Homo sapiens: one gene and its partner. The protein of the gene in region 2 interacts with the protein of the main gene of each other region in a biochemical or structural test. Each region holds a gene or a part of one and is shown on either strand. Other genes may lie near its edges. The genes, in order: PYCR2 and UBE4B.

What was found.
Region 1: of the proteins of UBE4B (region 2) and PYCR2, one has a biochemical effect on the other in vitro, tested with the Homo sapiens proteins (one study listed by BioGRID).

What each region holds. Positions count from the first base shown.
Region 1 is NC_000001.11:225,921,251-225,930,946, reverse strand, and holds the start of PYCR2 (pyrroline-5-carboxylate reductase 2), read left to right. Parts: upstream 1-6,696; 5' UTR 6,697-6,836; coding exon 6,837-6,903; intron 6,904-7,175; coding exon 7,176-7,246; intron 7,247-8,563; coding exon 8,564-8,743; intron 8,744-8,804; exon of another isoform or gene 8,805-8,867; coding exon 8,868-9,089; intron 9,090-9,302; coding exon 9,303-9,395; intron 9,396-9,575; coding exon 9,576-9,696. UniProt on the Homo sapiens protein: Oxidoreductase that catalyzes the last step in proline biosynthesis, which corresponds to the reduction of pyrroline-5-carboxylate to L-proline using NAD(P)H. At physiologic concentrations, has higher specific activity in the presence of NADH.
Region 2 is NC_000001.11:10,123,923-10,136,618, reverse strand, and holds part of UBE4B (ubiquitin conjugation factor E4 B), read right to left. Parts: intron 9,826-12,696; coding exon 9,742-9,825; intron 7,228-9,741; coding exon 7,171-7,227; intron 6,120-7,170; coding exon 6,003-6,119; intron 5,905-6,002; coding exon 5,806-5,904; intron 4,251-5,805; coding exon 4,137-4,250; intron 1,632-4,136; coding exon 1,433-1,631; intron 1-1,432. UniProt on the Homo sapiens protein: Ubiquitin-protein ligase that probably functions as an E3 ligase in conjunction with specific E1 and E2 ligases. May also function as an E4 ligase mediating the assembly of polyubiquitin chains on substrates ubiquitinated by another E3 ubiquitin ligase.

The DNA of each region.
Region 1 (9,696 bases), about 220 Mb from region 2:
GCCAGCGCTTTGGGAGGCCAAGGCAGGCAGATTGCTTGAGCCTGCGAGTTCAAAACCAAACTGTACAACATAGTGAGACCATCCCCATCATCTATACTTTAAAAAATACAAAAAATTAGCCAGGAGTAGTGGTTGTAGTTCCAGCTACTTGGCAGGCAGAAGTGGGAGGAGTGTTTGAGCCTGGGAAGTTGAGGCTGCAGTGAGCTGTGATGATGCCACTACACTTTAGCCTGGGTGACACAGCAAGAACTTGTCTCAAAAAATAAATAAATAAATAAATAAATAAATAACATTAAAGATAATTTTTAATGTATTGCAAACCACCCATAATCCCACCATCCTAAAACAAAATTATTTTGGTTTTTGCATATCACCTGTTTCCATGCAGCATGAGTAAATACTTATTTTAAAAACCAAGGTTTTGGCTGGGCACGATGGCTCACGCCTGTAATCCCAGCACTTTGGGAGGCCGAGGTGGGTGGATCACGAGGTCAGGAGATGGAGACCATCCTGGCTAACATGGTGAAACTCTGTCTCTACTAAAAAAAAAAAAAAACAAAACAACAAAAAAAATTAGCCAGGCGTGGTGGTGGGCACCTGTAGTCCCAGCTACTCGGGAGGCTGAGGCAGGAGGATGGTGTGAACCCGGGAGGCGGAGCTTGCAGTGAGCTGAGATCCCGCCACTGCACTCCAGCCTGGGGCGACAGAGCGAGACTCTGTCTCAAAAAAAAAAAAAAAAAAAAAATCAAGGTTTTGGCCAGGTATGGTGGCTCACGCTTGTAATCCCAGCACTTTGGGAGGCCAAGGTGGGTGGATCACCTGAGGTCAGGGGTTCGAGACCAGCTTGGCCAACACGGTGAAACCCCGTCTCTACTAAAAATACAAAAATTAGCTGGGTGTGGTGGTGCACACCTGTAGTCCCAGCTCCTCAGGAGGCTGGGGCAGGAGAATTACTTGAACCTGGGAGGCAGAGGTTGCAGTGTGCTGAGATTGCACCACTGTACTCCAGCCTGGGTGACAAAGCTAGACTCCGTCTCAAAAAAAAAAAAAAGTTTTTCTTATCTTTCTTTTTTTTTTAATTATACTTTAAGTTCTAGGGTACTTGTGCACAACGTACAGGTTTGTTACATATGTATACATGTGCCATGTTGGTGTGCTGCACCCATTAAGTCATCATTTACATTAGGTATATCTCCTAATGCTATCCCTCCCCCCTCCCCCTACCCCACAACAAGCCCTGGTGTGTGATGTTCCCCTTCCTGTGTCCAAGTGTTCTCATTGTTCAATTGCCACCTATGAGTGAGAACATGCGGTGTTTGGTTTTTTGTTCTTGCGATAGTTTGCTTTTTTTTCTTTCTTTTCTTTTTCTTTTTTTTTTTGAGACAGGGTCTCACCCTTTTGCTCAGGCTGGAGTGCAGTAGCAGGATCTTAGCTCACTGTAACCTCCACCTCCCAGGCTCAAGTGATCCTGCCACCTCAGCTTCCTGAGTAGTTGGGCCTACAGGCACGAACCACCACACTCGGCTAATTTTTTATTTTTATTATTTATTTATTTTTATTTTTTTATTTTTTGGTAGAGACAGGGTTTTGCCATGTTGCCCAGGATGGTCTCAAACTCCTGAGCTCAAGTGATCCTCCTGTCTCAGCCTTCCAAAGTGTTGGAATTACAGGCATGAGCCACTGCGCCCGGCCAAAATCAAGTTTTAATGTGCTTATTGCATGGGAAAAAGAAGTGAAGAGAGTTATTCTCCAAAAGGGTCACATTTGTTCTAAATCTTTGTGTGGTGGAATTGAAAACAATGTTTTTCCATTTGTTCTCTTTCTTTTTTGTTTTTTCGAGGCAGAGTGTCACTCTGTCGCCCAGGCTGAAGTGCAGTGGCACGATCTCAGCTCACTGTAACCACCGCTTCCTGGGTTCAAGCGATTCTTGTGCATCCGCCACCAGAGTAGCTGGGAGTACAAGCGCAGGCCATGATGCCCGGCTAATTTTTGTATTTTTAGTAGACAGGGTTTTGCCACGTTGGCTAGGCTGGTTTGGAACTCCTGTTTTCAAATGATCGCCTGCCTTGTTCTCCCAAAGTGCTGGGATTACAGGAATGAGCCACTGCACCCAGCCTTCCATTTGATCTCATTTCTAATTTTTCTAAAATAAACATGGATTATTTATGCAATAACAAAAAGAATGCAAAAATGCACTCAAAAATGCGCCTCTTTGGAGAGGCTCCTAGGACAGGGAGGATTGAGGGCCAAGGCACTTGCCATCTGTTTATCTGGGAGCAGCACAGGCTTCTCTCTCATTTCCTAGGTCATCTCAGTTCTTAGGAGAGACTGGCCTGCTGTTTAGAGATAGGAGAGACTGGCCTGCTGTTTAGAGGGAGGCCCTGAGGCCCTGATAGTGAAGAAGCAGAAGTAGACAGAAGTGAAGCAGTATCCATTTTGTCTGAGACAGCTGGAGAGGGCCATCAGGCAGGACAGAGGGGAGTGAAGAGGGAGGAAGGGTACAAACAGCAGAACCTGACTGGTGGATGAGAGGATGGGAGTAGAGGGGTGAAGGTGGGCAGTCCTGGCAGCTTTGTGGACGTGTCTGCTCCGAGACAGCAAAAGGATAGTGGGTGCCCAAGGAGACAAGTGCCAGCAGGGACTGAGCATGTCCCATGGCAGGATGGCAGTGCAAGGCTGGGGTGTCCTTTAGGGTGGCTGGATGGGAACGAAGGGCTTCCCCTCTCCTCTCCTCAACTTCAGTTCAGAGGAACTCCACAGGCATCAGATGTGACTGCCTTAGAAACCAAGGCAGTGGCCACAGCACCAAGGAAATGGGACGTTAGAGTCAGCAAGGTCATTAAAAGAGAATAAAATGGTCTTACCTATATTTAAAATAGGTAACAGGCTGGGTGCGGTGGCTCATGCCTGTAATCCTAACACTGGGAGGCCAAGGAGGGAGGATTGCTTGAGGTCAAGAGTTCAAGATCAACCTAGACTAACATAGTGAGACCCCGTCTCTATTTTATATATATATTTTATATATACATATATTTGGGTTTTTTTTGTTTTCTTACTTTGTTTTTATTTTTTGTTGTTTTCTTTTCTCTTTTGCTCTTTTTTATTTCCATCTTATATTTTTAAAAAATAAAATATAATAGATTTTGTATATATAAACTTTAAACTTTGGAGATGAAAAAATAATAGATCAAAACTACCACAAAAAAGAACAGTTTGTGGTCAGTGGCTCACTTGCTGCCCTAAGTCCAAACTGAGGGGAGCAAGTGCTTTTGCTACTCCGTGTCTTATGTGGCCAGTCCTGGCTGGGGATGAAGCCAACACTGGGGGTCACCAACATGGCCTCTTTTTTTTTTTTTTTTTTTTTTTTAGACAGAGTCTCACACTGTCACTCAGCCTGGAGTGCAGTGGCACAATCTTGGCTCACTGCAATCTCCACCTCCCAGGTTCAAGCAATTCCCCTGTCTCAGCCTCCTGAGTAGCTGAGATTATAGGTGCCCGCCACCACATCCGGCTAATTTTTTGTATTTTTAGTAGAGATGGGGTTTCACCATGTTGGCCAGGCTGGTCTCGAACTCCTGACCTCAGGTGGTCCATTCGCCTCAGCCTCCCAAAGTTCTGGGATTACAGGTGTGAGCCACCGCACCCGGCCATCCTTTCTTAGGCTTTTGCAGTTCTCCCATTTCACCCTGGCTCCCGGAAGCGGAAACGGGAGATATCAACGCAAGGCAACCAGGTAAGGGATGGGTGTATGTAAGGGGTCAGAAAGGAGTGAGACACAAGTGTCCCCCACACCTCACTCCAAAACACACATTCAGCTTCAGCACAACCTCCTGTATTGCAGGTCAGATCCAGAGCTCCCCACAACAGACCACAGCCAGGAAAAGCAAAGGGCCCTGCAGTGCCCTGGTGGACTATGGGGAGGGTGAGTATCCTGCAGAGGAGCAGGCAGCATTAGGAAGTTGTGAAGGAGGGTAAACCCCCAACTTCCTCACTACCTGACAAAGACTCCTCTACAACAAAAGGGAGGCCAAATGCAGGCAAACAGAAATGAGACAAAGAGAAGAGGGGAAGTGCTGGCAGCGCAGTGTTCTAGTTCCATTCCTGAGGTCCTGCTCTCTGTAGGTGCCCCTTCTGGTCTGTGAGCTCCCCTGTGCCTCTCCCAAGCGCTGTACAGAAGCCCCCCTTTTCCTTCAGCCAGTTTGGTTTCTGCTGGGTTTCTGGTTTCAGAGCTTTACGCTGGTAACCATTAGGCTATGCTGCAACATGGCAGCTATGGGAGCTCTTAAAGCCCCAAACCACTGGACCTTACAAATCTCACTTCTGGGAGTCATGTTAAGAAAATAATGAGTCAGGCAAAGATTTTATCACAATAATATGAACAAAAATTTAAAAAATTGAAGGCCAGGAGTGGTGGCTCATGTCTGTGATCCCAGCACTTTGGGAGGCTGAGGCGGGTGGATCACCTGAGGTCAGGAGTTGGAGACCAGCCTGGCCAACATGGTGAAACCCCATCTCTACTAAAAATACAAAAATTGGCCAGGCGTGGTGACACATGCCTGTAATCCCAGGTACTCGGAAGGCTGAGACAGGAGAATCGCTTGAACCCGGGAGATGGAGGTTGCAGTGAGCCGAGATCATGCCACTTCACTCCAGCCTGGGTAACAAAGACTCCGTCTCAAAAATAAATAAATAAATAAAAATAAGAAATAATAATAAATTGATGTTTTATGAGGACAGGAACTTGTCTGTTTTGTTCATAGCTATACTCCCAGAACCTGGCTCAGTAAGTTATCTATTATATAAATCAATAAACCTAACATTGACCTTTGAATGGTTAAATCAGTAAGGTACATACATATAATAAGTAGTCATTAAAACTGTCTTAAATAACTTTTCAGTGACATTGGAAAATGCTCATGTCTACTAGAGAAATTTCAAAACTACATGTACATCATTTATTTCCAATGATGGAGAAAGTAGATATGCATAGGACATGATAGTGTAAGGAAATACACCAAAAATGTTTGTAAGAAACTATCTTTGGGAAGTATGATGTGGATGATTTTATTTTTACTTTTATCTCCAAACTTTCTTCAATATGTCTGTATTACTTTTCGAATTTAAAAAATACAGAGGCCAGGTGCTGTGGCTCACGCCTGTAATCCCAGCACTTTGGGAGGCTGAGACAGGCAGATCACCTCAGGTCGGGAGTTCAAGATCAGCCTGACCAACATGGAGAAACCCTGTCTCTACTAAAAATACAAAAAATTAGCCGGGCGTGGTGGCGCATGCCTGTAATCCCAGCTACTCAGGAGGCTGAAGCAGGAGAATCGCTTGAACCCGGGAGGTGGAGGTTGCAGTGAGCCGAGATCGTGCCATTGCACTCCAGCCTGGGCAACAAGAGCGAAACTCTGTCTCAATAAATAAATAAATAAATAAATAAATAAAACATAGCATTATTTTGCTTAATAGTAAATATTATATTTGGTCCTCACTTTAAAGGGTGCACAAACTGAGGGCCTGGGGACTTGCTCAGGGAAGTTCACAGAAAGCAGCCCCTTGCCTGGGAGTGGGGGTGTGCATTACACGGAAAGGACTAGAAAAGCTAGCAGAGAGACCATGGGAACTAAGGGTCCTCAGCTCTTCTGAGTCCTCTAGGAACGCCACCTTCTTCCTCTCTACTTCTGTCATTTGTTCCCTGCGGCCCCTTATATTTACTACTGATAGAAAAGGAAACATCACATTGGTGGAGCTTTTAAAAGCAAGAGACAGGTCGGGCGCGGTGGCTCACGCTTATAATCCCAGCACTTTGGGAGGCCGAGGCGGGCGGATAACCTGATGTCAGGAGTTGAAGACCAGCCTGAACAACATGGTGAAACCCCGTCTCTACTAAAAATACAAAAATTATCCGGTCGTGGTAGCGGGCGCCTGTAATCCCAGCTACTGGGGAGGCTGAGGCAGGAGAATCGCTTGAACCCGGGAGGCGGAGATTGCAGTGAGCCGAGATCGTGCCACTGCACTCCATCCTGGGCAACAAGAGTGAAACTCCGTCTCAAAAAAAAAAAGGCAAGTGACAGCAAGGGGCTGGGGGGTGCGGGATCGCGGAAGAGTCGGAGACTCGAACTTGTCCTTCTTGTATCTAGTTTGGACAAATTCGCGAGAAACACTCAAGTTCAAGTGAATAAGCCGCGGCTGACCACCCTGGTGCCGCCTCGCCGCCACCTGGTCTGAACCTCGCCGCCACCTGGTCTGAACCTACGCCAGGAGGGCCTCGTTCATCCCCGCAAATCGGCAACCTGGAGAATTCCTGTGGGCCTTGAGGGGCATCTGATGGCCAGCGCCAGAAATAATATTAGCCAGGCCTGGGCCAGGCCTCAGCCCTGAGCCCGAGGTGGCTTAGGGACGGCGACCTCAGCCTTGGGGTGGGGGGGGGGGGTGGGGGCGGCCGGGCGTCCTGGGCCGGCGGGCGCCTGGAGCTCACGCCAAGCTGCCACAGGGGCTTCCGGGACTCCAGCCCGGAGTTCCGCCCTCCAGTCGCGAGCGGAGGAGGCGGGCACGCGGCCTGGCTCGGGCCGCGGATTGGCCTGCCCCGAGATCCTGGCCACTGATTGGTCGCCCGGACGGGGCGGGGCCACGTGGCCTAAGGCGCCATCAGCCGCCCGGGAGATATCCGCCGGGGGAGAATAGGGTTGCACCATCCCAGAAGCTGCTGTTAGCTCGCCGGTCCTCGGCACGCCGCCCGTTCGCCCCTGCGCTGTCCGCCCTTCCCCTAGCGTTACTTCCGGTCCCTCGCTGAGGGGGTTCGTGCGGCTCCCAGGAGGCGTGAACCGCGGACCATGAGCGTGGGCTTCATCGGGGCCGGCCAGCTGGCCTATGCTCTGGCGCGGGGCTTCACGGCCGCAGGCAAGCGCGTGGAGGCGGGAGGCGGCTTCGCGGGCGGTCCCGAGGCCCGAGGGGGCCTCCGTCCCACCAGCATGAGCGAATGAAAGGGGAGTTTGCGTCCGGTGGGGTAGATGAGACTCTGGTTGAGCAGCAAGTGCGTCTTCTGTCCTCGTAGAGGGTTGAGGGGGAGAGGGAGACTGGCACTGTTAGGACGGCTCTGGGTTTTAGAGCCAGGGAAAGCGTGGTAACGGGCTGGGCCGCGACCCCTAGTTGAAAAGCTCTGTCTTCTGCAGGCATCCTGTCGGCTCACAAGATAATAGCCAGCTCCCCAGAAATGAACCTGCCCACGGTGTCCGCGCTCAGGGTAGGTGGAGCCGGGCGGAGTGGGAAGCGGGTGGAGGCCCAGGAAAAGGATGACCTGAGATGAAGTGAGTCTGGCCGGCCCCTGCGCCCAAGTGCTGGTCTTTGGCCGGCGGTGACCTTTACTCCAGGAACGTGACAATCTTTCCACCTTCTCTTGGGCAGCTCAATGTGGTGGGAACACCCAGGGAGACATAACTGGGGGTCAGATCCAGACACTGGAGTGGTAGAGGATTAACTGAGGTGATTATGTGATGAAAGCACCTGGCACATAGTAGGTACCTAATAAATACTCATTTTTTAAATTTTTTTTCAGACAGGGTCTTACTCTGTCGCCCAAGCTGGAGTGCAGTGGCGCGATCTCAGCTCACTGTAACCTCCGCCTCCCACCTCAGCCTCCCACCTCAGCCTCCCGAGTAGCTGGAATTACAGGCATCCACCACGCGCAGCTAATTTTTGTATTTTTGGTAGAGAATACTGTTGGCCAGGCTGGTCTCGAACTCCTGGCCTCAAGTGATCTGCCCGCCTTGGCCTCCCAAAGTGCTGGGATTACAGGGGTGAGCCACTGCGCTCAGCCATTTTTCTTAATAGACGAGTTGTATGACCTTAAAGTACTCAGCCACTTTGAGGCTATTTCCTCATTTACAACAGTGGCCACTTTGCTGTTATTCTGAGTCGTGAATGAGCATATTGGGAAGAATCTGGTGAGTTAGTTGTTCTGTTCTCCAAAAACATATTCCAAGTCTTCACCCAAAACCTGTGCTCTGTGGGAGAGGATGGCTGATGAGGCAGGTGACAGGCAGTGTCTGTGCCTAGGGTGGGCTGATGTCCCTAGCACTGGAGGGTCCTGCTTCTCAGTTTGGAGTCATAGAGGGATGGATGGCTTCCAGCCTAGCCCTGGACCACATGGAGACTGTGCGGTCCCCACGAACAAGCGGCCAGGGTTAGGATAGGGCCTGACTCAGCTGTGCTTTTAACGACCAGGTATTAGCATTTCCCTTTGCCCTGCCACTTTCACCATAGGGCCTTCTTACCTGGCAGAGGAGTGCCTTAGATACCAGAAGATTGGCAGGGAAGAAGGGCAGCCACTTCCTGGTTACCATGGAGAAGCTTGTCATGCTCCAAGCCTGTGCTTACTTGTCCAGTAGCAACAATGGGAAACTGTATTATTTGGGGTAGGGGTAGAACCCTGAGGGCATAAAGCTAAGAATTCCAGGCTGCATCTGGCAGAATCGGTTTGGCAGGGGTTCAGCTGCTCCCTGGGAGGCCTTGGCATAGCCAGGCTGCTCCAGCACTGTGAGCTGGGAGTCTCCTCTTGCAGAAGATGGGTGTGAACCTGACACGCAGCAACAAGGAGACGGTGAAGCACAGCGACGTCCTGTTTCTGGCTGTGAAGCCACATATCATCCCCTTCATCCTGGATGAGATTGGGGCCGACGTGCAAGCCAGACACATCGTGGTCTCCTGTGCGGCTGGTGTCACCATCAGCTCTGTGGAGAAGGTGCCCATCTCAGCCCTGATGCCCCTTGTGTGAGGGGAGGGTTGACCCACGAATGGCAGCTAATGGGTGGGTGCTGGTGGGAGCCGTGCCCTGGCCACTCATTCGGCTCTCTCCCTCACCCTAGAAGCTGATGGCATTCCAGCCAGCCCCCAAAGTGATTCGCTGCATGACCAACACACCTGTGGTAGTGCAGGAAGGCGCTACAGTGTACGCCACGGGCACCCATGCCCTGGTGGAGGATGGGCAGCTCCTGGAGCAGCTCATGAGCAGCGTGGGCTTCTGCACTGAGGTGGAAGAGGACCTCATCGATGCCGTCACGGGGCTCAGTGGCAGCGGGCCTGCCTATGTGAGGCCCTCATTTGCTCGCTCAGCCTTCTAGGAACCCAGGCAGCAAGATGGGCTGGCAGGCAGGCTTGGACTGGGGGTGGCGCCCACCTCTTGGGCACAGCTGGCTGGTACAGGATGCTGACCCTTGGAGCTAGTTCTAGTCATCAGAAAGCAGACCTAAGGAAAGGCCCTTCAGTGCCTATGGCCTGGGGCTTAGTGAGTGTCTCCACAGGCATTCATGGCTCTGGACGCATTGGCTGATGGTGGGGTGAAGATGGGTTTGCCACGGCGCCTGGCAATCCAACTCGGGGCCCAGGCTTTGCTGGTCAGTATCTTTCCCCCGCATGTTCAGGACCAGGGTGTAGAATGGGGGTTCTTGTGCATCACTGAACTGAGGTGGGAGTTGGTTGGGAAGCTGGGGTAGCAGTTGGGCAGGAGCAGTGGGTATGGGAAGCCTGTTCCAACGCACACCAGCAACTTTCTCCTAATGTGCCCTTCCCCATAGGGAGCTGCCAAGATGCTGCTGGACTCGGAGCAGCATCCATGCCAGCTTAAGGACAATGTCTGCTCCCCTGGGGGAGCCACCATCCACGCCCTGCACTTTCTAGAGAGTGGGGGCTTCCGCT
Region 2 (12,696 bases):
TGCAATTATAAACTTAAACAATACTACAAGAAGAAGAGAATTCCTGTTAGCTCCATTCAAGGACCACCGTATTCTGTCCTACCTCGTTAAATGTGCATACAGATGTCCATCACAATCTTTTTTTTTTTTTTTTTTTAAGAGGGTCTTACTCTGTCACCTAGTGTCACCTAGGCTGCAGTGCAGTGCAGTGGTAAGATCACAGATCACTGCAGCCTCAATTTCCTGGGCTCAGGCAATCCTCCTGCCTCAGTCTCCTGGGTGGCTGGGAACACAGGCATGTGCCACCATGCTGGGCTAATTTTTTTCTTTGTAGACATGGGGTTTCCTTATTTTGCCCAGGCTGGTCTTGAACTCCTGGGCTCAAGCTCTCCTCCCACCTCAGCTTCCAAAAGTGCTGGGATTATGGATGTGAGCCACCATTCCCAGCCCATCAACAATCTTTGGTGATGTTCCTTACTGATGTATTGTATAAAATCTCCATTTTTCAACACAATACAGAAATATTTAAATCTCGAAATGGTATTAAATTATGTTAATAAACTACTGATTCCAGAGCCGTTTCCCTGCATATTTCTTTTTTCTAATTTTTTTCTATTATAAATAATGTTACTACTGGGAGGATTTATGTAAACAAAATTATTCCTTTTTCCTCCAACTTTGGGAATATAACCTGAAAAGTAGAATTATTGAGAACAACAGTATTATATTTTTTGCTATGAATCACCAGAATTCACTTCAGATAGGTTAAATAAATTGATTAAATATCACCTACTTCTTCAAAAACTTACATTCTATTTTATCACTTTGGTTTTGGCTTTTTTATAGATATATTATGATAACTTGATTTTTTTTTTCAATTTGTATCTGTTTTTTTTTTTTTTTTGAGACAGAGTCTCACTCTGTTGCCCAGGCTGGAGTGCAGTGCCGTGATCATGGCTCACTGCAAGCTCAGCCTCCTGGGTTCACACAATTCTCCTGCCTCAGCCTCCTGAGTAGCTGGGATTACAGGTGCGTGCCACCACACCCGCTAATTTTTGTATTTTTAGTAGAGATGGGGTTTCACCATGGTGATCAGGCTGGTCATGAACTCCGGACCTTTTGATCTGCCCACCTCAGCCTCCCAAAGTGCTGGGATTACAGGCGTGTGCCACCATGCCCAGCTAATTTTTGTATTTTTAGTAGAGACGGGGTTTCACCACGGTGGTCAGGCTGGTCTTGAACTCCTGACCTCGTGATCCACCTGCCTCGGCCTCCCAAAGTGCTGGGATTATAGGTATGAGTCACCACGCCAGGCCTACTGTATTAATTTTTATTATGTTTCTCTATCTCTTAAGTTCATTTTATGGTGAGGTGGTAACAATCTGTGAGGAACTACTAGCACACAGACAAGAGGGCAGTGTTTTAATGACCGAGTCACGAACACAGTACTCACAGAGTTCAGTCAGCCAGTCATTCACATCTTCCATCGTTGCATTCACACGCGTCTCATCATTGGGAAGAGTAATCCGACATCTTGGGTGAAAAATATACGTGGGATCAACTGTTTCTAACTTGATTTTTGTACTTAGCTGCTGCAGTACCCAAAGGAAATTCAGCATAAATCCATCTGTAGACACCAATCTATCATCTGTCTGTGAAAGTTGAAAAGAAAAAGTATTTTTAAACATTAAAAAAAATTTTTTTTGAGATGGGGTCTCACTCTGTTGCCCAGGCTGGAGCGAAGGGGTGTGATCTTGGCTGCAACCTCCACCTCCCAGGCTCAAGCAATCCTCCCACCTTAGCCTCCCAAGTAGCTGGGACCTAAAGTGATCCGCCCACCTCAGCTTCCCAAAGTGCTGGGATTACAGGTGTGAGCCACTGTGACCAGCCAAGAAAAAGTATTTAAAATAACATGAATAGAAATTTTGGCAAACTTTGTAAGAAAGCAGACTGAACTTTCAAACATAACTGTATCCTAAAGTCAATGAGAAGACATATATCTCATCACCACTGTCATTCCATTAATTCTATATTAGCAGGTGCTACTTGTTGAATACCGCCTATTATATAATTATTATTTATATAAGAGGCATTTTATACATTCTTTTCTTTTCTTTTCTTTTTTTTGAGATGGAGTTCCACTCTTGTTGCCCAGGCTAGAATGCAGTGGCACGATCCTCGCTCACTACAACCTCCGCCTCCCGGGTTCAAGTGATTCTCTTGCCTCAGCCTCCCGAGTAGCTGGGATTACAGGCACCCGCCACCACGCCCGGCAAATTTTTTGTATTTTTAGTAGAGATGGGGTTTCACCATATTGGCCAGGCTGGTCTCGAACTCCTGACCTCAGGTGATACGCCCGTCTCGGCCTCCCAAATTGCTGGGATTACAGGCATGAGCCACCACGCTTGGCCATTTTATACATTCTTTTACTGAACCATCACGATAATTCTTACAGGTCAGTAATACTGCTGTTAACATTTTATGCAGGAGGAAATAAAGACTCAGAGACCCTGAAGTGATTTGCCTGAGGCTCAAAATTAGTAAGTAGAAACACAATAAATGTTTCTTTCTTTCTTTCTTTTTTTTTTTTGAGACAGGGTTTTACTCTGTTGCCCAGGCTGTAGTGCAGTGGTGCAAACATAGCTCACTGCAGCCTCAACCTCCCGGGCTTAAGTGATCCTCCCACTTCAGCCTCCTGAATAACTGGGTCTACAGGTCTATGCCACTATACTGGCTAATTTTTTATTTTTTTTGTAGAGACAGGGTCTCCCTATGTTGCCCAGGCTGGTCTCGACCTCCCTGGCTCAAGTGATCCTCTTGCCTCAGCCTCCCAAGTAGCTGAAACTATAGGCATGCACCAGCCACCATGCCCAGATGACTTTTGTATATTTTGTAGAGATGGGGTCTCATTATGTCGCCAGGGCTGGTCTCAAATGCCTGGGCTCAAGTGATCCTCCCACCTCGGCCTCCCAAAGTGCTGAGATTACAGGCGTGAGCCACCATGCCCGGCCTCTTTCTCCTCTTTATTTCCCTCAAGAGCATCAAAACAAGTTGCTCCACTTCTTATCATGTGACATTGTTTCTCTAGGTGACAGCATCAGCATGCTCCTGCATTAGCAATATAACAATGTAACTTGATTACCTCTGTTAAGAAAAAAATAATAATACAACAATGATAAGAATGATAGTTAATATTGGTTGAGTGATCACTGTGTACCAGGCACCACTCTAACAGCTTTATATATAATAAACCCAGTACCAGTAGTACCGCAGCTTAGCAGATGAGGAAATGGAGGCACAGAGGAGTCACTGTCTAAGGTCCCGCAGTTAGTAAACGGTGGAACCACGATCAGAAATCACAAGATCTGTGCTCTTCTCTCTACATGATTTTTGCTTCTGAGTATACACATCACATCATTCATTCATTATTTATTACTAGTCAAGGAAGGATGCCCTTTTCTCCTCTGGCAAAGCAGCTGCAGCCACTGGCCTGTCTCACCCGGACCGAAGCACTCACGCCCTTGCAGCTGCCTTCTTGGGTCTGTTCCTGGCTGCCCCCTTGGGTCTGTTCCTGGCTGCCCCCTTCTGTTTTGGTCCGTCTACATAGCAGCTTTTGTGGTTTCCCTGCTGAAAACCCTCCCATGACAGTTCTGATCACGTAAACCTAACCCGATGGCGCCCTGCCTATCCACTAACTCCAGGACCCGACATTCCCTCCTGTTCACTCTTCTCCAGCCACAAAAGCCTGCGTGCTGGGCTTGTACCAAAGCTGCTTCGTTTCCACATTGGATAGCTCTTTTCTCAGCCACTACAATGGCTGGCTCCTTCCTATGAAACAAATGTCACCTCCTCAGGGAGGCCTTTCCTGCCACCCAATCAAAAATCACCTTCAGATCTTCCTTCTGGTACCTACAGTTCTTCTCATGTCATTTACTTTGCTCTATTTTCTTCACTGATTATACAACTGTCTAAAATCATGTATTTATATGTCTACTTGTTTATTCTGTGGAACATGGGCTCCACAAAAGCAGGAAGCTCGTCTACCTTGTTCAATACTGTACCCCCACTCCTAGAACAGTGCCTGGTAGGTGCTGACTAAATCTGGGTCAGATGAATGAATTTGACAAACAGCGAAAAGCAGTCTGTAGGAATCCTACCTGCATCTGTGCTTTCTTCATATTGGCATTGACGACAGCCGCCATGTAACTGAGAGCAGCCTCACGGGTTTCGCCATTTAACAAAATACTATGCAGAATCTTAAAAAGCTCTTGCTGAAATTTATTTTTAAAAAGAAGAAACAAATTAAAACTATTTTGCACATGATTCCTTTTTGACTTCACGAACAGCTAGCCTACTTCCCACGTTCTCTCCTCTCCCACTTCTACTCATTTTAGAAGAGCCTGAGTGAAAGAATATAAGAAATATCCACATCCAACTATGTCAAAGTAATGAGCATGAAAGCAGAATATGGAGTGGGGGAGGTAGGCAGTTACAGTTTTTTGTTTTTTTTTGAGACAGAGTCTAGCTCTGTTGCCAGGCTGGAGTGCAGTGGTGCAATCTCAGCTCACTGCAACCTGCGCCTCCCAGGTTCAAGCCATTCTCCTGCCTCAGCCTCCCGAGTAGTTGGGATTACAGGCACACGCCGCCACACCCAGCTAGTTTTTGCATTTTTGTTGTTTTTTTTTTTGAGACGGAGTTTTGCTCTTATTGCCCAGGCTAAAGTGCAGTGGCACATCTCGGCTCAGTGCAACCTCCGCCTCCCGGTTTCAAGCGATTCTCCTGCCTCAGCCTCCCAAGTCGCTGGGATTACAGGCACCCGCCACCATGCCCAGCTAATTTTTTTTGTATTTTAGTAGAGATGGGGTTTCACCATGTTGGTCAGGCTGGTCTCAAACTGCTGACCTCGTGATCCACCTGCCTTGGCCAATTTTTGTATTTTTAGCAGTGACGAGGTTTCACCATGTTGGCCAGGATGACTTCCTGACCTCGTGATCAGCCCATCTCAGCCTCCCAAAGTGTTGGGATTACAGGCATTAGCCAACACGCCCAGCCGGCAGTTACAGTTTTAATAAAATAGGCTTTGTTACTTCTTTCCCATGATCAAAATTACCTTAGTTACCCAAGCCTGTAACTTCTTTGCCTGTTTCTTTTTTTTGAGATGGAGTCTTGCTCTGTCGCCCAGGCTGATGTGCAGTGGCGTGATCTTGGCTCACTGCAACCTCCACCTCCTGGGTTCAAGTGATCCTTGTGCCTCAGCCTCCCGAGTAGCTAGGTAGCTGGGATTACAGGCACGCGCTGCCATGCCTGGCTAATTTTTGTATTTTTAGTAGAGACGGGGTTTCGTCATGTTGGCCAGGCTGTTCTCAAACTCCTGACCTCAGGTGATCCACCCCACTCGGCCTCCCAAAGTGTTGGGATTACAGGCATGAGCCATCACACCCGGCCCTTCTCTGCCTTTAAGTTTGAGAATTGAAGACATATTAATCTGCATTTGGGATAAGCAAGTCAGTGAGGGTGTGTGCAAACTAACAATCCTTGCTCACCCTCACAGTGTAAATGCCTAAGGGCCAGCTGGAGGAGGAGCCGGGCCACTAAGCTTAGGACCAGTTCCCAGTGATGCTACATACAAAGGCAGCATACTGCTGTTGTTACAACCTGTTATTCAAGACACAGGCTACTTACTTATAGTTTATCTTTTTTATGTAAGATCGAATTGGCTTTTGTTAGCCGTTTGTCTACTGGGCATAGTCCAGTCTACAAAATAAAAGCTCTGTATCTGGAGCTCATCTTTGATACTTCCTCTGGATTTGTTTTCTGAACACTTACCCTTCCGAGCTCTAAGTAATGCTGCAATGATTGGCTAACCACACGAGTGTTTTCCAGGGTAATGGCAGGCCCTGAGAAGTATTTTTCAACCACTTTAACCTGGAAAGAGAAGGAAAAAATGCAGTCAACATATAATGCACATTTGGGAAAGAATCTGAATAAAAGGGCAGCAAAGTACAAGTAGCCACTATACTTACATCATCTTCTGCAAAGACTGAGAAGCTAAAGAAAGCCCCTAAGTAAGAGAGTCTCTGCAGCTCCCGCCCACAGCCAGGACTTAAGGATTTCGGCAACCACAACCGCAAAGAAGCAACCTAGGCAGAAGATGGAAGAGCCAGTCAAGCCGCTGAACAGGCCGGTGGGGTAAAAATGTAATGAAAACTCTCCAGCTCCTCTGTATTTTCACAAGATATTATTAAAACTTTTATGTTTCAGCCAGGCATGGTGGCTCACGCCTGTAATCCCAGCACTTTGGGAGGCCAGTGTGGGTGGGGGTGGGTCACCTGAGGTCAGGAGTCCGAGACAACCCTGGCCAACATGGAGAAACCCCGTCTCTACTAAAAATACAAAAATTAGCCGGGCGTGGTGGTGTGCGCCTGTAATCCCAGCTACTGGGGAGGCTGAGGCCAAGAGAATCGCTTGAACCCAGGAGGCAGAGGTTGCAGTGAGCTGAGATTGCGCCACTGCGCTCCAGCCTGGGTGACAGAGTGAGACTCTGTCTCAAAAAAAAGAATGTTTAAGTTTCAGGATACTATTGGATGAAGTTCAAATGAACTCTTCTTATACCACCAAAGGACTCGAATAACTTTTCCATACCTCTTGTTAGTTTAGTTGTACAATACTTGTCAAGGGAAAAAAAACAGGCCCGGTGCGGTGGCTCACGCCTGTAACCCAACACTTTGGGAGGCTGAGGCGGGTGGATCACCTGAGGTCAGTAGTTCGAGACCAGCCTGGCCAACATGGTAAAACTCCATCTCTACTAAAAATACAAAAAAATTAGCCTCGCATGGTAATGCATGCCTGTATTCCCAGCTACTTGGGAGGCTGAGGCACGAGACTCACTTGAACCCAGGAGGCGTAGGCTGCAGTGTGCCAAGATCCCACCACTGCACTCCATCCAGCCTGGGTGACAGAGTGAGATTCTTAGAAAAAAAAGGGAAAAAAATCATAGAAATGAACAACTGTAATGCAGGATATAACGTGTCTAACAAAAATGTAACAGTTGAGAGCCTCCCAGACACGTTACCTCCGCCTACACCTAAATGTCCTTCAAGAGACATTTTCCAGGCCATCTCACTAGAGGAATGCCTTCTGGGTTATGATATATTCACTGAAAATGTGCAAGCCCATCAGGTGAGTGCTTACCAAATTGCACACAGGGTGTGTCTTCCCAAACTTGGTTTCACAGAGCTCACCTAGTGCCTAGAAATAAGATCAGAGTCATTTAAATGCATTTCATCTTAAACTGACTGTCATTTGTAGCATAAAGAAACAGTTTTAACTGCTGCTATAAATTCGTTCCCTCTAAAATGGCACACATGCATTCCCTCTGAAATGGCAGCAGCTTCACTACTTTTTCTGATTAATAAACTAAAACACATGCAATGTGAAAACTTGAAATAAAACAGAAATATAAAATGAAACTAAAAATTACTCAAGCTTTACCCTCAAAGATAACCTCTATTGATATTTTGAGCAACAGTTTTCAGATATATTTTTGTGTACTGTATCTATATATGTTTTTTACAAAAAAGTTTTTCCACTTCATATCTTTCCATGTCAAAAAGATTTATTTCATAAACTTTAGATGGCTCCTCTTGCCAGTGTTAAACATGACTATAAATAATTACAATTTAATAAGCTATCAAATTCAAAACATATTTAAAAACATAACTTGGTTTCAAGATTTCTAGTACTTTTAAGAATTCCAACACTTTCCTTCAGACATCCAACCATCCTAACATTAGAGAACGATGAAAAACACTTTTTAGGGACATAAACATAATTTAGCATGCCCATGGTAACTCAATCAAACATTATTTTCAACAGTTAATTTCCTCTGTGATTCGGACGCAGCTCTAGAAGTTGCTACATGAGCCGAAGAGTGCATTTAGGCATTGACACAACGTTGAGATGCCTTTGAGGTTCAGGCAGCCTCAACTCAGAAGGAAGCGTTCTCACTGCCTAGTGCAGGAGTTCACAAACGTGGCTGCATATTAGGATCACATGGGAAGCCTTTGGAAACCCCAATGCCATGCCACACCCCTGGTGAATTAAATCACAAGGTCTGGGGTGGGGAGCCAGGCAGAAACACCTTTAAAGATCCCCAGCTGATTCCAAGGTGATTCCAACGTATGGCACAGCAGGATCCACTGACCTAGAGAATGATCACAATGATTTCTGATTTTAGCTTCAACAGTCTTCCGCTTCCTGCCTCTCATTATTGTACCCTCTCACTCACTGTGTCCTCGTTATTATGCAAGCATCAATAATGGCACAAAATGAAATCACTGTCTACCACAATGGAGGCCTCTGTCTTTTGAACAAAAGGACATTTTGGTGATATCAGATGCTAAAAGCTCCTCACTGAAACATCAAGCTAATTCACACCACAACCCAAAAGCCAACAGTCCCATGAAGGAACATCTACATAATATGGTGATAATTAGTGTTCACTAAAATATTTCATCACTGAACTCAAACAATCAGATTATTCCACTTCCTTTTATCTGCCACAGGGAGAACAATACATAAGGATTCAAATAATTTTACCAGGAGCCCCAATAACATGTACAATGGAAAGAGCTCTGGCATAAATCCACTTAAAATTATTTTTTAAAGTAGGAATTCTGGTTTCACCTTCTAATTTCCCAGCATTCTTGTAGCCTTTTAGTGCCATGACAGGTTTGAATTTTTTAAATAGATAAATACACCCTTTGTGTACAGCTCTGTTTTAACATTTATCACAGTATCTGTTCAACTGTTGCGCTGTAGCTCTTATTTTTGCAGTAGATTATGAGTGCCTTGAGGAGAGGGACCTTGTCTTCCTAGCTTCTGTATCACCAGTGTCTAGCACAGAACAGATCGTCAGTAATGAATTCATGGTATAATGGAATCCAATCAGTGGAATAAGTAAAAGAAATAAATACAGTAAGAAAAACAACCATGGTCTCAATTTACATAAGACTTAATTTATACATAGAATAAACTAATTTCATTTTGATATTTTTTCCTTTACACTTCTGCAACGAAAATATTCAGTAACACTTCAAAATACTTTTCTCCCAAAATTTCAAATAAGCGAATTCAGAACAGAAAGGAGCTTCTAATTTTCATTCTAGTTTCAGCATTTTCACAACATTCAAGCCTCCCCATGGGAATCTAGCTGAAGCTTCTGTCCACAATGTATGCCTGCTCTAAGTGCGTTAAAGAGCTAAGCAGATTTCTACTTCCCAAGTAAATATGACCTTAGGAAACAGGGAGGGTGAACAAGAGAGCTACACTGAGATTTTCTGCACAAAGTAAACACATAAAGATAAAATTGTATTCATTTTCTTAGTATGTACAGCTTTGCCTTTTTTATTTGCATTTTTAATAGGTTTTTTTTTTTTAAGTAACAAAATTTCATCCCAACTATGGTATGCTCATTGCTAGGAGATAAGTTATCTTTTTCATAAGCTATACAAAGTACATTGTAATAAGTGCATTTAACTCCTGTCTAGGACTTGGATAGGTGGAAGATGTACCAGGCTGCTAACTGTCTTCACTGATGCATCTCACTGCACACCAAACACTCTGCATGGCCAACACAGTGATTTCATGTTTTAAATTTGAAAACAAGGTTGATCTCATGGACCTGAAAGAAAAGTATATGTCAAAATAATCTGAAAGAAAAACATCTATTGAATGAGTTAAAGAAAAAGAACAAAGTTTTACCATGAGGGGGTATTTAAAGTAGTCACTGTCGAGGGAGCACTCTTTGGCAGCAAGAGCCAGGCCTTGTAAAATGGGGATAAATATCTATAAGAAAAAAAACAAAATCAGAAATATAAGTTTAAGAGAATCTAAGAGTGGGAAGTATGTCAAATAAGGTGCTAGAACTGAATGTCCAAATTTCATTCCTTCCCCAGGGAAAAGCTTTTTTGCATATAAAAGTCTAGAATTCAGCCAGAGTGTTGACCTGTTCTTTGACAAGTCTAACCATAAAGTAATACAGCTGAATTCTCCAGAAGTAAGAGGAGTTTGGTGAACTCTAATACTCTGACAGGACCCCCAGTAATTCAACAAAACCCAGTAATTCAACAAAACCCATACATTTGGAGCCTGTTGAAGAACTCTCCAGGAGTCGTTGCTCTACTCAATTAAATTCTGCACATCTCAGCAACTAATATGTTCTTGATTACCAAGCATCTATAACCTGTTAAAAAATTCAATTAAATGTTCCAATATTTCCTCCTTTCTATCTATCTATCTATCTATCTATCTATCTATCTATCTATCTATCTATCTATATTGAGACGGAGTCTCGCTCTGTCACCCAGACTGGAGTGCAATGGCACAGTCTTGGCTCACTGCAACCTGTGCCTCTGGGGTTCAAGTGATTCTCCTGCCTCAGCCTCCCGAGCCAGCTGGGATTACAGGCATGTGCCACCACACCTGGCTAATTTTTGTATTTTTAGTAGAGACGGGGTTTCACTTTGTTGGCCACGCTGGTTTCGAACTCCTGACCTCGTGATCCACCCGCCTCAGCCTCCCAAAGTGCTGGGATCACAGGCATGAGCTACCGCGCTTGGCCCTCTATCAATATTTTTTAAAAGCTTTTCCCCATTTATTTTGAGGAAAACAAGATAAACAGGCCAACAATCAACATTATTACTACATTAAACTTAAATTAGAGCAAAGAGCTAGTTGGTAAATGTTGAAATTTACAAAGAAAGCTTTAGTTAGAAAGCCTTACCTCCACATATAGTGTAATTAATACATTAACCTGCTATTGGCACTTAAAGGAACTCAAATCTGCTTTTATACATTTATGATTAATACCAGGTAACACCATGTAAGATTTACTCAGCCTAGCTCATCTTCAAATTTCACAATGCAAGCACTGATCAACACATTTAGGGAGTTGGTTGGGATTCAAGGCTAATAACATTAAATAGAAATGTTGTAAACAACAGCTGACAATCTGAATGCCAACAAGTTGTAATAGGAGTATACTATGTAGCCACTAGAAAACTTGAAAAATTCCCTTTCCTACTAATTTCATTCCATGAGCACCTTAATAATTTAAAGAGCACAGTATAAAACACAGGTGCCCTGGATGACAAAGTGTCCGTGGAGTGTTGTGAGATATCAATACAGCTCTGGAAGAGATCATTCTATGGTTTCTGCAATACCAACAATCAAGGTAGATGTAACTTGCTCTCATATGCCAGATAAAAATGGAGAAGTAACACTCAGGTGTGGAGCTGGGGAATGCCAACATTGTAATGAGGAAGAAAAGACAAACAGAGGTTCCAGAATCACCAAAAATTAGTTCATAACTGGTTGTCCTGAAAAATCTCCAAATTTTTTTAGGGAGGCTACAAGTAAAATATAATTACACTTTCTTGTATAGTTATCCTTTTGTGCATTGCACAGGTAAAATATTACTAAGCATAATCTTTTTCTTTTTCTTTTTCTTTTTTCCAGACACAATTTCACTCTGTCGCACAGGCTGGAGTGCAGTGGCGCGATCTCAGCTAAATGCAGCCTCCATCACTCGGGTTCAAGAGATTCTCCTGCCTCAGCCTCCCAAGTAGCTGGGACTACAGGCATGCACTTCTGCGCCAGCTAATTTTTTGTATTTTGAGTAGAGATGGGGTTTTGCCATGTTGCCCAGCCTGGTCTCGAACTCCTGAGCTCAGGCGATCCACCTGCCTCGGCCTCCCAAAGTGCTAGGATTACAGGCGTGAGCCACCATGCCTGGCCTGACCTATATATTTTAAATAATTCTTCAATTTTCAAATGAATACCTCCTAGCACTGATTAAAAATACTGTAAGTATCCACCTCCAGTCCTAAATTCTAGCTGCTATTTATTTATCTGTGAACATTTCTCAAACATTAAAAGGAGGTAGATATTTCAGTCAAAGATTTAATAATTCACATTTGCCACTCTTTCAAGACAAAAAGGTAAAATGCTGCTTTGCAGTCCAACAGCTCCATCCCAGTTATCATTCCTCTCTAGATAAAACACATGGTAGCACATAAGAAAAGACAAAGAGTATTCAACACTGAGTGGCTGAAAAGTCAGCAGAATTCTGGGATTAAAAACAAACAGGTCTGGGCCAGGCGCTGTGGTTCACACTTGTAATCCCAGCATTTTGGGAGGCCGAGGTGGGCGGACCACTTGAGGCCAAGAGTTCAAGACCAGCCTTGAGGCCAAGAGTTCAAGACCAGCCTGGCCAACATGACAAAACTTCATCTCTACTAAAAATACAAAAATTAGCTGGGCATGGTGGTACGCTCCTATAATCCCAGCTACTTGGGAGGCTGAGGCAGGAGAATCGCTCGAACCCAGAAGGTGGAAGTTGCAGTGAGCTGAGACGGCGCCACTGCACTCCAGCCTGGGTAACAGAGAGAGACTCACCCTCAAAATTAATTAATTAATTAATAGAATAAACAGGTCTGTGGTGGTCGTATAACACTGTGAATGTAGTAAATGCCACTGAATTGTACACTTCAAAATGATGGCTTGAGGCCAGGTGTGCTGGCTCATGCCTGTAATCCCAGCACTTTGGGCGGCTGAGGCGGGTGGATCACCTGACATCAGGAATTCAACACCAGTCTGGCCAACATGGTGAAACCCCGTCTCTAATAAAAATACAAAAAATTAGCTGGGTGTGGTGGC